4 separate regions of the Homo sapiens genome follow, and regions 2, 3 and 4 are each linked to region 1. Evidence: fine-mapped expression QTL. A gene starts in region 1. Each other region holds a variant in brackets. All regions are shown on one strand. Distances are between the middles of the regions. Region 1 holds the start of MYEOV (myeloma overexpressed). Region 2 overlaps LOC105369370 (a long non-coding RNA gene). Region 3 holds the start of SMIM38 (small integral membrane protein 38). Region 4 has its middle 27 kb from the start of MYEOV.

The links. PIP is the estimated chance that this variant, and not a neighbour inherited with it, causes the effect.
Region 2: its variant is fine-mapped to the expression of MYEOV in whole blood (TOPMed, PIP 0.94).
Region 3: its variant is fine-mapped to the expression of MYEOV in esophagus muscle (GTEx, PIP above 0.99).
Region 4: its variant is fine-mapped to the expression of MYEOV in subcutaneous fat (GTEx, PIP above 0.99). The same link has a PIP of 0.9 or more in tibial nerve.

The regions. Positions count from the first base shown.
Region 1 is chr11:69,292,604-69,295,283 of GRCh38, forward strand. It overlaps MYEOV (myeloma overexpressed), which reads left to right and starts at 1,552. Exons shown (of 3, transcript NM_001293291.2): 1 at 1,552-1,973; 2 at 2,630-2,680. RefSeq lists an enhancer at 123-674.
Region 2 is chr11:69,366,674-69,369,353 of GRCh38, forward strand. LOC105369370 (a long non-coding RNA gene) reads left to right here. Exons shown (of 5, transcript XR_950269.4): 3 at 70-193; 4 at 366-439; 5 at 622-2,680. Among named protein-coding and RNA genes, the nearest start is that of LINC02953, 58 kb to the right of the region's middle. The variant A/C (reference allele first, on the strand shown) is at 1,411.
Region 3 is chr11:69,154,622-69,157,301 of GRCh38, forward strand. SMIM38 (small integral membrane protein 38) reads left to right here and starts at 1,314. Exons shown (of 3, transcript NM_001369201.2): 1 at 1,314-1,493; 2 at 2,553-2,680. The region is part of intron 2 of LOC338694 (a long non-coding RNA gene); the gene reads right to left. RefSeq lists an enhancer at 868-1,795 and a silencer at 2,680. The variant T/C (reference allele first, on the strand shown) is at 1,508.
Region 4 is chr11:69,319,668-69,322,347 of GRCh38, forward strand. No RefSeq gene overlaps it. Among named protein-coding and RNA genes, the nearest start is that of MYEOV, 27 kb to the left of the region's middle. RefSeq lists an enhancer at 957-1,823. The variant T/C (reference allele first, on the strand shown) is at 1,420.

The DNA.
Region 1 (2,680 bases):
AGACCTCCCCTGATTCCCTGGAGGCAGAGCAGAGCTCTTGTCTTTGCAGGAGCTGCAGATTCTGCCTTGGGTATCTTAGAAGCTTTGTACAGGCATCTCCAGCTCAGTGGGAACCAAATGCCATCCTATCTCCCCACCTCACTGGTGTCACCATCTTCCTGGGAGCTGTCTGGATAACCCTCTCCCTGGCCCTCACCTTTAATTTGTCCCTGAGTCCCATCAGGGTCACCCTCCATCCCACTGCCATCTTCCTGGGAGCTGTCTGGATAACCCTCTCCCTGGCCCTCACCTTTAATTTGTCCCTGAGTCCTATCAATCAGGGTCACCCTCCATCCCACCACCATCTCCCACCTGAGTGAGAATGGGAACCTCCTCTCCCACTCCCTCCAATTCCCCTCCACTACAGCTGGGGGAGGCTTCTAAAATGCCAAATATAGCCCAGTTTCTGCAACTTGCAGGGTCCCCAGCCCTCGGGAGAAAGTCCAAACCCCTGACAAAGCCTGTGAAGCCCCCTGAGGCCCTGTGGGTCTGGGGCTAGCTCTGGGCTGCAGCCCTGTCTCTGGTCATAGTCCAGCATCCACCACGGTCCAGGTGCACTGAGCTGCCGGCCCTCTCTCCCCTCCGCTGGCTCCTTCCTCCTGACTGCCCGTCTTTCCCTGGCCTCTCTATGCTTCCCGCTGGCATTGACGACAGTGTCCTGGAGAGCTGGGCAGGGAGGGCTGCCTTGGGTTCCTACTGTGTGCTCCACCTAGTGCTGGTCTTGGCCCTTAGCAAGTGCTCAGTACACCCGTGTGGAATTGGGCGGTGAGGGTAAAGGGAGGAGGAGGGAAGGGCCAAGAGCTCCCTGTGCTCAATGAAGAGAGGGACTTGAGCAAGTACTCATTTTTAGTACTTCCCAAGATGTGTACAAGAGGCCTGGGGCCAGCAGAACTCCTTGCCCCTGCCCATCCCCCTCCAGTCTATGGGGTCCACCCCCAGCTGCCCAGCTGTGAGGCCTCCATGGCTCAGCTCCTCATCTATTAAGTGAGGACAGCAGTCGTCCCCCTCACAGCGAGGCCACGTGGGTTACATAACTTTTTCTTAGGGTGCCTGGCCTGCAAGAAACCCCTAAGAATGTTCTATATTCCTAGGCCCACTGTTATTCTTAATATTACCCAGGAAAGGGTGGTGAAGCGAGTAAATAAATGAATAGGTGAATGAATAAATGAATGAATGAATGGCACCCTAGCCCCACTGTCTTCTGGGTGGCTTCAGGATCCTTGAGGAGGTTGGCCGTGTAGGTTCCCCTCAGGTAGGACCTAGGTGAGCTGGGGAGTCTTAACTCACCCAGGGCAGGCCTTAAGGTTGGGCACACCCATGTGTGGGCTCTGCCCTGGCCTTAACCGAGAGAGGGAAATGTTGACGGGGAAGAAAGCCCTGCCCACCAGGCAGCCCCACCCACCTGGGCTAGCCCCACTCACAAGCAGCCCCACCCACCTGGGTTAGTCCCACCCACCAGGCAGCTCCGCCTACCTTGGCTATCCCCCTCTGAGTTCTTGCCTTGATTCTCCTGTTACTGTCCCGCGAACCCACATCCCTACAAAGCAGGAAAGTATGCTTGGGAGAGGCCAAGTGAGTGGGGAATCAGCCCAAAGCCAGGCGTCCAGGGTCTCCCTCACCTGAAGCTGACTTTTTCCCCACCTTGGACAGAGGGCGGGAGATGCCATCCCCACTGAACCCAGTGCTTTCACCAGCCATATTAGCTCCCACTCACCCCCCGTCGTGGAAGCCTCGGCCGTCACACCTGCAGGGCCGGGGCGTGCATGGCCTCAGGGATGGCCTGTTCAGCTGCTGGGTGACTCGGGTCCAGGTGCCTCACCACCTGCTGAGCTCTGTGTGATTTCTGGACACTTCTGCTCGTTGCCTTTGGGCTCAGTGAAGAGTCTGGAGTTTATCTGGAGTGAGGTGGCCGGTTCTTGGTGGGATCTGAGCAGGTAAGAAGCAGGGTCTTTCTTATGTTTTAAGGAAAGCCCTGTGGCTGCTGGGTGGGGGACCAGCTGGAGGGGCAGGAGGGCAGCAGGTGACTCATTACAAGGCTGGGGCCATCATCCTGTGAGAGCTGGGCATGACCAGTGCAGGTCAGTGGGGTTGAGGGTACAGACCAGTGGGACCCACAGACGGCTCGGGAGTGACCAAGCCTCTGCTGAGCTGCCCAGGTCCCCTCTGGTGGACACCTCCTACCCGGAGCCCCCCAAGGTGGTGCCAAAGCTAGACCACCATACAGCCAGAGGCCTCCAGGCCCTACCCACGACAGCCCAGCTGGCTTCTGCCCAGCCACCGTCACACACAGAGGGCAGCCGTCCCCATGGTCCCTAGAGGCGGTTGAGGACCACTGTGCCTGGAGTCATCTGTGGCTATAAACCAGGAGGAGAAGGCTGCCCACCCCCTGCCCCAGAGATGGGGAGGCTGGGGCCACCCGGTGGATTTGGGCAGGTCCCAGCTTCCAGGATCATGAGGTGAAAACGTGAAGGGACCCTAGAGGCCATGGGGACCCAGGCACAGAGCGGCGGCCTCTCATCCTCCCCATGGTCAAGGAGGTCAGTGCCTTCCCGGGGTGGATTACGGATGGTAGTATCTTCCTTCTCCTCAGAGTCCATTCAGGAGCAGGAAAGTTCATCTCAGACCCTAAATCCAGCCACGT
Region 2 (2,680 bases), 74 kb after region 1:
TTTAAACTAATTGAATTAGTAAATTTTTAAAAATCCCTTTTATTTTTATTTATTTATTTCTTTTTTAAGAGACAAGGTCTAGCTCTGTGATGCAGGCCGGAGGACAGTGGTGTGATCACAGCTCACTGCAGCCTTGAACTCCTGGGTTCCAGCAATCCTCCCACCTCAGCCTCCTTAGTAGGCGTGGCTACAGGTGTGTACCACCATGTCCAGCCCTAAATTTCATTCTTTTTAATTTCAATATTGTTATGTGTTTTCTAATGTTTTATAACTTATTGGTATGGTAGATGTACATGTATACAAATTAAAAGAAAATTTATATATATTTTACTGGGGATGCAAGCTCAAAATTTTTTTTTTTTAAGTAATGGAAGACAGCAAAAGAAGTTTGGAGATTCCTGGTTTAAAGCATTTAAAGCCTCTGTGAAAATTTGCCCAGGTATTTACCTCACAACAGGTCTATGAGTTTGGTATTATTTGTCCTTTCTTACGGATGAGGCAGTCCGGGCTTATGGATGAGGCAGTCCGGGCTTGGAGAGCGGGGCGGAGGGTGGTGGGGGGCCTGGGACACGCTCTCCCCAGTCCAGCCAACACCTGCTTCCTGTTGATGATCCTCACCAGGCCAACAACTTCACTTTCCACACTCAGTGCCACGAAGTGCAGCTCTAAGCTGGGGATTTCTGTGCAGAGATGATCCACTGAGTGCAACCCACCACCGTGCGGACACCACCCCTGCAGAATCATCTGTGAAAACAACCCCAGGCCCAGACATAGGGGCCAGCTAAGCTTCGTAGCCCTCGAAATACAGGGAGTGCCCCCTCTGGACCCTCGAGCCCACAGTCCATCCACCACAGAGGTGTCTGCTGCTCATCAGATAGTTCCTACCAAGAAAATGCTGTGTGAACCCATCTGTGTGGCAAACCGGCACGGGGAGAAAGCTGACTTCCAAGGACGTCTACCAACTGTCACTTGCAAACCAGAACTTGCCTCTTTGTAGATGAAGACTGGCAGGGCTGAAGAAATGATCTCATGTTGAAATTAATGATGAGCTTCAGGGTGAGGTGACTCAGTTCGAATGCTGTTGAATGTTGGTGTCATGGGACTTTTACAAGAAGTAAAACTGGGCTATAAAAATGATCCCCTTCCCCTCACTAGAGAAGGGAGGTTCTATTCCTCTCTCTGTCTTTCCCTCTCTCTATATATACCAAAGGTCAAATCTTTGGTATTTTGCATTGAGTCTTTAATTATTCATTCACTTTGACCTAGTAATTGCACTTCAGAAAAATAAAGGAAAAACTCGGGGCATAAGTGGTGGTTATGGGGGGCAGGGGAAGCGGGCATGTGGTTGTTTTTCTCTTTTATTTTTAAATTTTTTGCTTTTTCTGCATTTCTCAGGTTTGCCCTAATGAG[A/C]TGCCTGACTTTAATAAGAGAAGAAACCATCAGTGTTTGCAAAGCCCCCTCAGTGTGCCTCACACTCCCTCTTCAGGCACAGCAGGCATCTTCTCTGAGTGCCAGGGCCCCGGTGACCACACACCCACATACACGGACCACCCACTCAACCCCTCAGGGAACACTGCCACCCCCACTTGCTACATCAACTGCCTTTTCACCTTGTTTAGAAGCAAAAGTCAACTCAGGGGCCAGGAGACCCTGGGCATGGGGCTAGGTCTGGGCAAGGTCTCGAGTCAGGGAGAGAGGGGCAAGGAGCCATGTGCCTGGAGTGAGGCTGTGTCCCTGCCCTGGGCAAGTCAGGGTGGCTGGAACCTGCCCTTCTGGAGTGGGCCCCTCGAACTTGTTAGAGTACTTATAACCTCCTGTCTGCACCCAGAAAACCCGCCCAGGAAGCATTTCATGTGGTGAAGAGAGATTCCAAACTGGAACTTGGAGGCTCGTTCCCAGCCCCTCTCTGACGCCGATTTCTTGAGTTGATTTTGCCTGTGCATTGAGCAGTTGGGGCTACATAAGGTTTACAGGATTCTAAAAAATTATCATGACATATGTCAGGCATACCAAAAGTGTAATGAGTCATAGAATAAACACCTAGGCACACCCCTACTCAGCTGAAGAAGTAAAACAGTATCAAGGTAGTGGAAATCCCTCCTGCATCCCTCTTCCCCCTCCCCAGTCTCCCACAACCCTTCCCCACCCCACTCGCAGTGGGGAGAAGCATGGCCCTCAGCTCTCTTTATGCGCTCACTTCTTATATCTCCCTAAACAATATATGAAACAATTTTCCATAAGCGTCACTTGAATACAAGCAGTCTAATATTGTATATACTTGCCTGTAACTTGCTTTTGTTTTTACTTTTCCTCTTGAAATAATGTTGAATTCACAGAAGAGTTGCACAGATGCCAAGTTCCCTGACACTCTTCACCAGCTTCCCCTAGTCTGAACATCTTATATAACCACAGTCCATTGATCAAAACTAAGACATTTACATTGGTGCATCCCCATCAACTAAGTCACACTTTGGCTCAAATTCCACCAGTGTTTCCACTCATGTCCTTTTTGTGTTCCAGGATCCTGGGACTTCAGGACACCACGTTGTATGTAGCTGTATGCCTCCTTAGTCTCAATGTCATGTTAGTGATATCTGATGTGTGTGCTCATCTTCACTGTTCCACGGTATTTTATTGTGTGAAAACAGCACAATTTATCCATCCACTCTCCTATTGATGG
Region 3 (2,680 bases), 140 kb before region 1:
CTCAGAGGCCCGGGGCTGGGAGCATCCCCGGATCCATCCTCAGAGGCCCGGGGCTGGGAGCCACCACCGCCCAGCTCCATGCGTTCCCATTGGCGGGGTCTGGGTCTGCGCTGATGAGGCGCTCGTCACTCTTATCCTGGATTATATTCACAGGCGGGTAACTCGGGGGGTGGTGTGATGGGGAGACACAGGAGGGAGGAGCAGGGAGGGCAAGATGAAGGGGAGCAGTCTGGGAAGGGGGCGACTCCAGGCACAGCCGCACGTCCCTGGGATTTTCAGGGGGAGCTCTGGGGGTTCAGAGTGGCCTCTAGTTTGTCCTGGTCCAAAGCAGGGAAGCTGGGCTACGTCCTGCCCAGGTCAGCCTTAGGTTAAGGGCTGCCTGGGGGAGGGAACTTCCTGGGCCTTCGGGTCTCTGTGCACTGGGGTGGCTCCTGTGGCCCAGAATGCCCTGGAGAAGGGTCCTACTGGAAGCGAAGGTGCAGGGCAGCAGGGCCTGAGGCGCAGGAGCTGGTGGAGGCTCCCAGCACAGGTCGCCGCCCCAGTCACATCACTGCTGATGGTGGGGGGACTTGGGGAGTTTCCCCCGAGAATGGGAGGTCTCACAGTCCCCGTGCTGCAATGCTGTCGGTGCACTGTGTCTGCAACGTGCTCATGGTCACTTGCTTTTTCTCTGTGGCCCCGGCCGCTTTATCCAGCAAGTAGCCCCCTCTCCTCTCCGGAGAAGCCGAGCCTGGATGCCGCTGGGAGGAGGTCACTCCCTTCCTGTCTCGAAGGGCATGCCGTCCTCGTCCTTGCTGACTCCCAGAGGCCCAGGGACGTCTGAGGGGGAGGGGCCGGGCCTCCTTGACCCCTGCGTGTGGACACCATGTGACTGGGGTGTGGTTGACTCTCTGTGTCCGATTGGGTGCTTGGCAAACACAGAGAGTTTTGTCCAAGGCCACCTTGGTCCCCACCTGTCCAGGTTGGGAGGTGCCCTGCCTGGTGTGGCCTGAGCTGAGCGCCTCTGGCCGGAGCAGACGGCCCCGGCTCCCCCAGGACATGTCACCTGGAGAGGTGGCCCTTTCAGGTAAGGGACATGCCCATTGGCAGCAGCCTCTGCCCCCTCCCTGCATACACAGCTGCTCCCATCTGGGGACCCTCACCCCACGTGCGGATGGGCTTCCCCAGGAAGTCGGCAGGACTTTCCCTGGCCTTCTGGAAGTCCCCATCAAGCAAATGCTCTATCGATGACTTACTCTATGACGGGGTCCAGAGAGCTAACTCCCCACCCACGTTCGAAGTGATCTTCAAACCGCTGCGCGTGGAAAACAAGCCCAGAGCTCAACGTTCCCTAAGTGAGTGGCCTTTGACAGCAGTGCCAGGCAGCCCAGTGGGTGCAGGGCACACCACAGATGGAGGAAGGGCCAGGCATGCTTCCCAGACAGCCTCTGCCAGTCCAGGCAGGGGCTCCAGGGTGGCTGCGGGAAGGCAGCTTAGGCGGTGCCCGGCCCAAGGTGAGTTGGCATCA[T/C]GCTCCACTTCCCGTTTGAACGTGTGGTCCCGTTTGAACCTTCTGGAAAGGCTTGGCAGGGAGGACACTCATTTTGTAGACTGGGAAGGAACTGAAGAGCTGGCTTCCGGCGACCAGCGATGGGCCCCAGATCCCTGTGGCCAGGAAGGCCCCCATTGCTGTTCTCTGTAGCTCAGGCTGGACATTTGCTGGTGAGAACTGGCCGGACTCCCAGGACCCAGCCGCCAGAGACCTCTGTTCCTCACGCTCAGCCCCCTAGCTCCAACTGGGGCCCCTTTGCTTTACAGGATGTAGGCTTGGAGTTAGAGGGGGCAGTTCTGGCGGTTTATCTCTCACTCACAGAAACTCGGCTGTGAGAGGCCAGAGCTGGACTTGGGGGGCAGAGCCTGTAGAGGTCAATGTGTCCTTATTGGGTGTGCACACGTGTGAGTCTGTGTGCACACACATGTATACATGTGTATGCGTGTGTGTGTGTGTGTGTGCGCGCGTGTGGCAGTCAGAGAAGGCTGGGCAGACACTGTTATTTCAGAAAAGATGTGGAGGCCTTTCTGAAGGCATCCACTGAGAGGCAGGGGCCAGGATCTCTGTGCCCAGGCGCTGGGCGTGGCCCCTGAGAAGTGCTCTCTCCCCTAATCCTTCAAAGCAGGAGGTATTTGCTTCACTTTCTAAGGCAGGATCTGCGGCTCTGAGAGGTTGCACAACTTGCCCGAGGTCACTCAGCTAGTAGAAGGCAGGACTGGCCTCCGGTCCAGGGTGACTGTGAGGATGTCAGGGGACCCTGCAGGCCTGTGCGCCCCAGCTTAGGGCTACAGGTCCCACCTAAGGCTTCTTGATGGAGGTTGGAGGGGCGAGCTGGAGGGAGGTGCTGCTGGGGGTCCACCGGTCCCCTTCCTGGGGGATGAAGCCGGTTTCCCGCGCTGACCCCCTTGCCATCAGAGGCCCAGAGCGCGGTCCTTGTGCTGCTGAGCTGTGTTTGGGGCCGCCTGTGGGCTGTGGCCGCCTGTCCTCATCTTCTCCCCTTTTCTCCTTGGCTTTTCATCCTCAGGCTCCGTCCTTCTTCCCCGTGGTGGCCCCAGCCTCCCTGCCAAGCTTCCCGGCCCCCGCCCCATCCCGGGCCTGCTGCTGCGGAGACCGTGGGCCGGCGCTGGACGGCGCGGCCTCCAGAAGTGATAG
Region 4 (2,680 bases), 27 kb after region 1:
ACATGGATCTATTTGCAACTCCTAGATGCCATCAGACCACCTGTTGTCTGGGAGCCCTTGCTCCAAGTGTGACTGCTGTCCCTGGATATTCTGTCTAGCAAGGTTTCCAGTGTAGTCCATTGTCACCCACACTGGGTGGCCTTCAAGGCCGAGTGAGGCCTTTCTCTATGTGCAGGCACAGTGCCTGTGTTTCCTCCCTCAGCAGGCTCTGAGCTCCGCTAAAGCAGAAAGGGAGGTGGGTTCACCGCACTTCCCAGAGCCTGGAGGACACGCTCCCTTACTGTCTGACGAGGGAGTCAATGTCAAAGGCTACAGAGGGGCAGGAAGGCGGAGGTGTTTGTGCACCACGATGCTGGACGTGGAGCCTGGGGACTTCCCAACATGGATGCAAGCTCTGCAGAGGGAAGGGGTGCTCTACAGGCTGACCACTGGCAACGACTCTGGGCGTTCTGCTGGCACCCACAGGGACAGTGGTGGTGAGTTCTGCTCCTTGCAAGAAGGCAGTGAGCACAGCCCAGGATGAAGGGGTGCGTGTAGATGGGGCCATGTGCACGTTGGTCCCCAGAGATACTTCCAGGGCCACCTGCAACCCCCTGAGGACCCCCAGACCTGCTGGAAGACCTGAGATTGGAAGGATTTCATGCTCCCCCTGGCCGCTGCCTCCTGTCTCCCCCACTTTGGCCACCTATCACCCCATCCAGTGGTACCCTCCTTTGGTGGGTAACTCCAGCAGAGACCTCAACTTTCTATGCTTTTCAACCTCCGGCCTCAGGGCGCGTTGCAGGAGTCCCCAAACCAAGGGCGTTTCTCCTTCTCGCCACCAACTTCCCACCCCTGGGAAAGTCCACATTCCTGAGCCAGACATTCACCCGGGGGAATCATTACCCAGTGCCCTGTGTGCAGATGCCAGGGCAGCGGGTGTCCTTCCTCCCCAGGGCTGCATCCTTCCCCTGCAGACTGCACAGGGTGCCCCCAGCCTGCCTCCCCAAAAGTCTTAGGTAACTGTTGGGTCTCTCACTCTAACACCCACATAAGTTGGGTCTGGATAAACCACAATGCGGGATCCTTCAGGGGATGGAGACAGTAGCTGAGGAAAAGAAAGAGAAGTGGGACTCAGGAGAGTGGTAGGGAGACACAGGCCATGAGTGAGGCAGGGAGAGAGTGAGAGGTGTGGACGGACCCTCTGTCAATCCCAGAGGTAACGCTGACCACCCCCAGGGCAGGGCAGGAGCCAAGAGACAAGAAGAGAGGAACCCGGGGAGCGTTTCAGCCCAAGCTGAGGAGGCCCCAAGAGTCCCTGCACCCCAGGAGTTCTGTGGGTGTCCAGGGCAAGAACCCCTGTGCCGGAAATGCCTTCTTTTGCCCCTCCAGGCCTGCCCTCTGCTCTGCTCTCTGCTTCAGGGGCTAAGCCCGATGGAC[T/C]CATTCCTCAGCTCCCATGCCCTCTGGCTTCCTTTTGGGAGTGCCCCAGCTGTAGGTGAAAGGGAGAGGGGAGGGTGAAGTCAGAATATTCATGTCACAGCATCGAAAGCTTTGGGGTCACTTTGGGCAGGCTGTGTCCCTAGACTGAAGGTCTTAAGCTTCTCCCAAGGCAGGCCCCTCTCCAACATTCCCTCCTTTCCAGGTTCTGGCATGGCTTATGCCTTCCCTTAAACCTTCAGCCTCAGGGTGGCCGCAGCCCTGGGGCATGGACTGTGGTGCACTGCCTGCCCCTATGGTTTCCCTGTACCCAGTAGTTTTCCCAACTTGAGTCATTCTTTCCTAGTGGAAACCTGACACTTCCCCATTCTGTGGCAGCCTAGGAGGGTGGTCTGTACCCCAGAGAGGCCTCTAGCTGTGATGTGCCACTGCCTCCCTATGCAGGAGGCTTTGATGGGGTACACTCTAAACACCCCCAGGACGACCCAGGCATCCTCCTGGAAAGCTGGGTGCAAGCCAGAGCAGGGCTCCCAGGTCCATGAGGGTGCAGCAGATGGAAGGCCAGCCCGGTGACCATGTGGTGATAGCACAGGGCAATGATGACTGGAGGCTCTAGGGTCACAGGGATTTTGGTTCAAGTTCTGCCTCTACCTGTTACTCATTGTGCACCCTTGGGGTGCCCCACATCATCTCTCTGAGGCTCAGTTCCACCTAGAGTTCTATACAGAATTCAGCAAGAAGCCGAGTGTGCAGCCCCCAGCCCCAGCTCCAGCGCACAGTGGCCCCAGCACACACTGATGGGGCACGTTTTCCCAGCTGCCCTGTTGGTTTTCCTCAGTGAATCGCTGCTGAGTCAGTTAGCAGGTCCCCAAAGTAGAAACTTTGTCAGATCCCAAAGAATGTCAGCCCCAGTGACTCACGTGTGTTTCTCCCAAAAACACAATCGCAGGCCTTTGGGATCAGCTCAGCCATCTCTGAGACATTTCAATGCTGTGAGCAGGATGCTGGGTTCCGGCCACAAAAGAGCTGGGTGCAAGCCTGGTCTCCATGAAAGGAGTTCCCACTTGGAAAATCTGATTCAATTGACTTCTCCCTTTCAGTTTAGCTTCACAGTTCCCTGGCTATGTCTACATCTAAGAACTATGGCTCCATGATGAATTGCCTGGCAGATGGTGGTTGTGATGTTTGTGTTGTTGCTATGGTGATGGAGTTGCTGTTTCTGATGGTGGTGATCCTGGCAGTGGTGGTGGGTTATTTCTAAGGG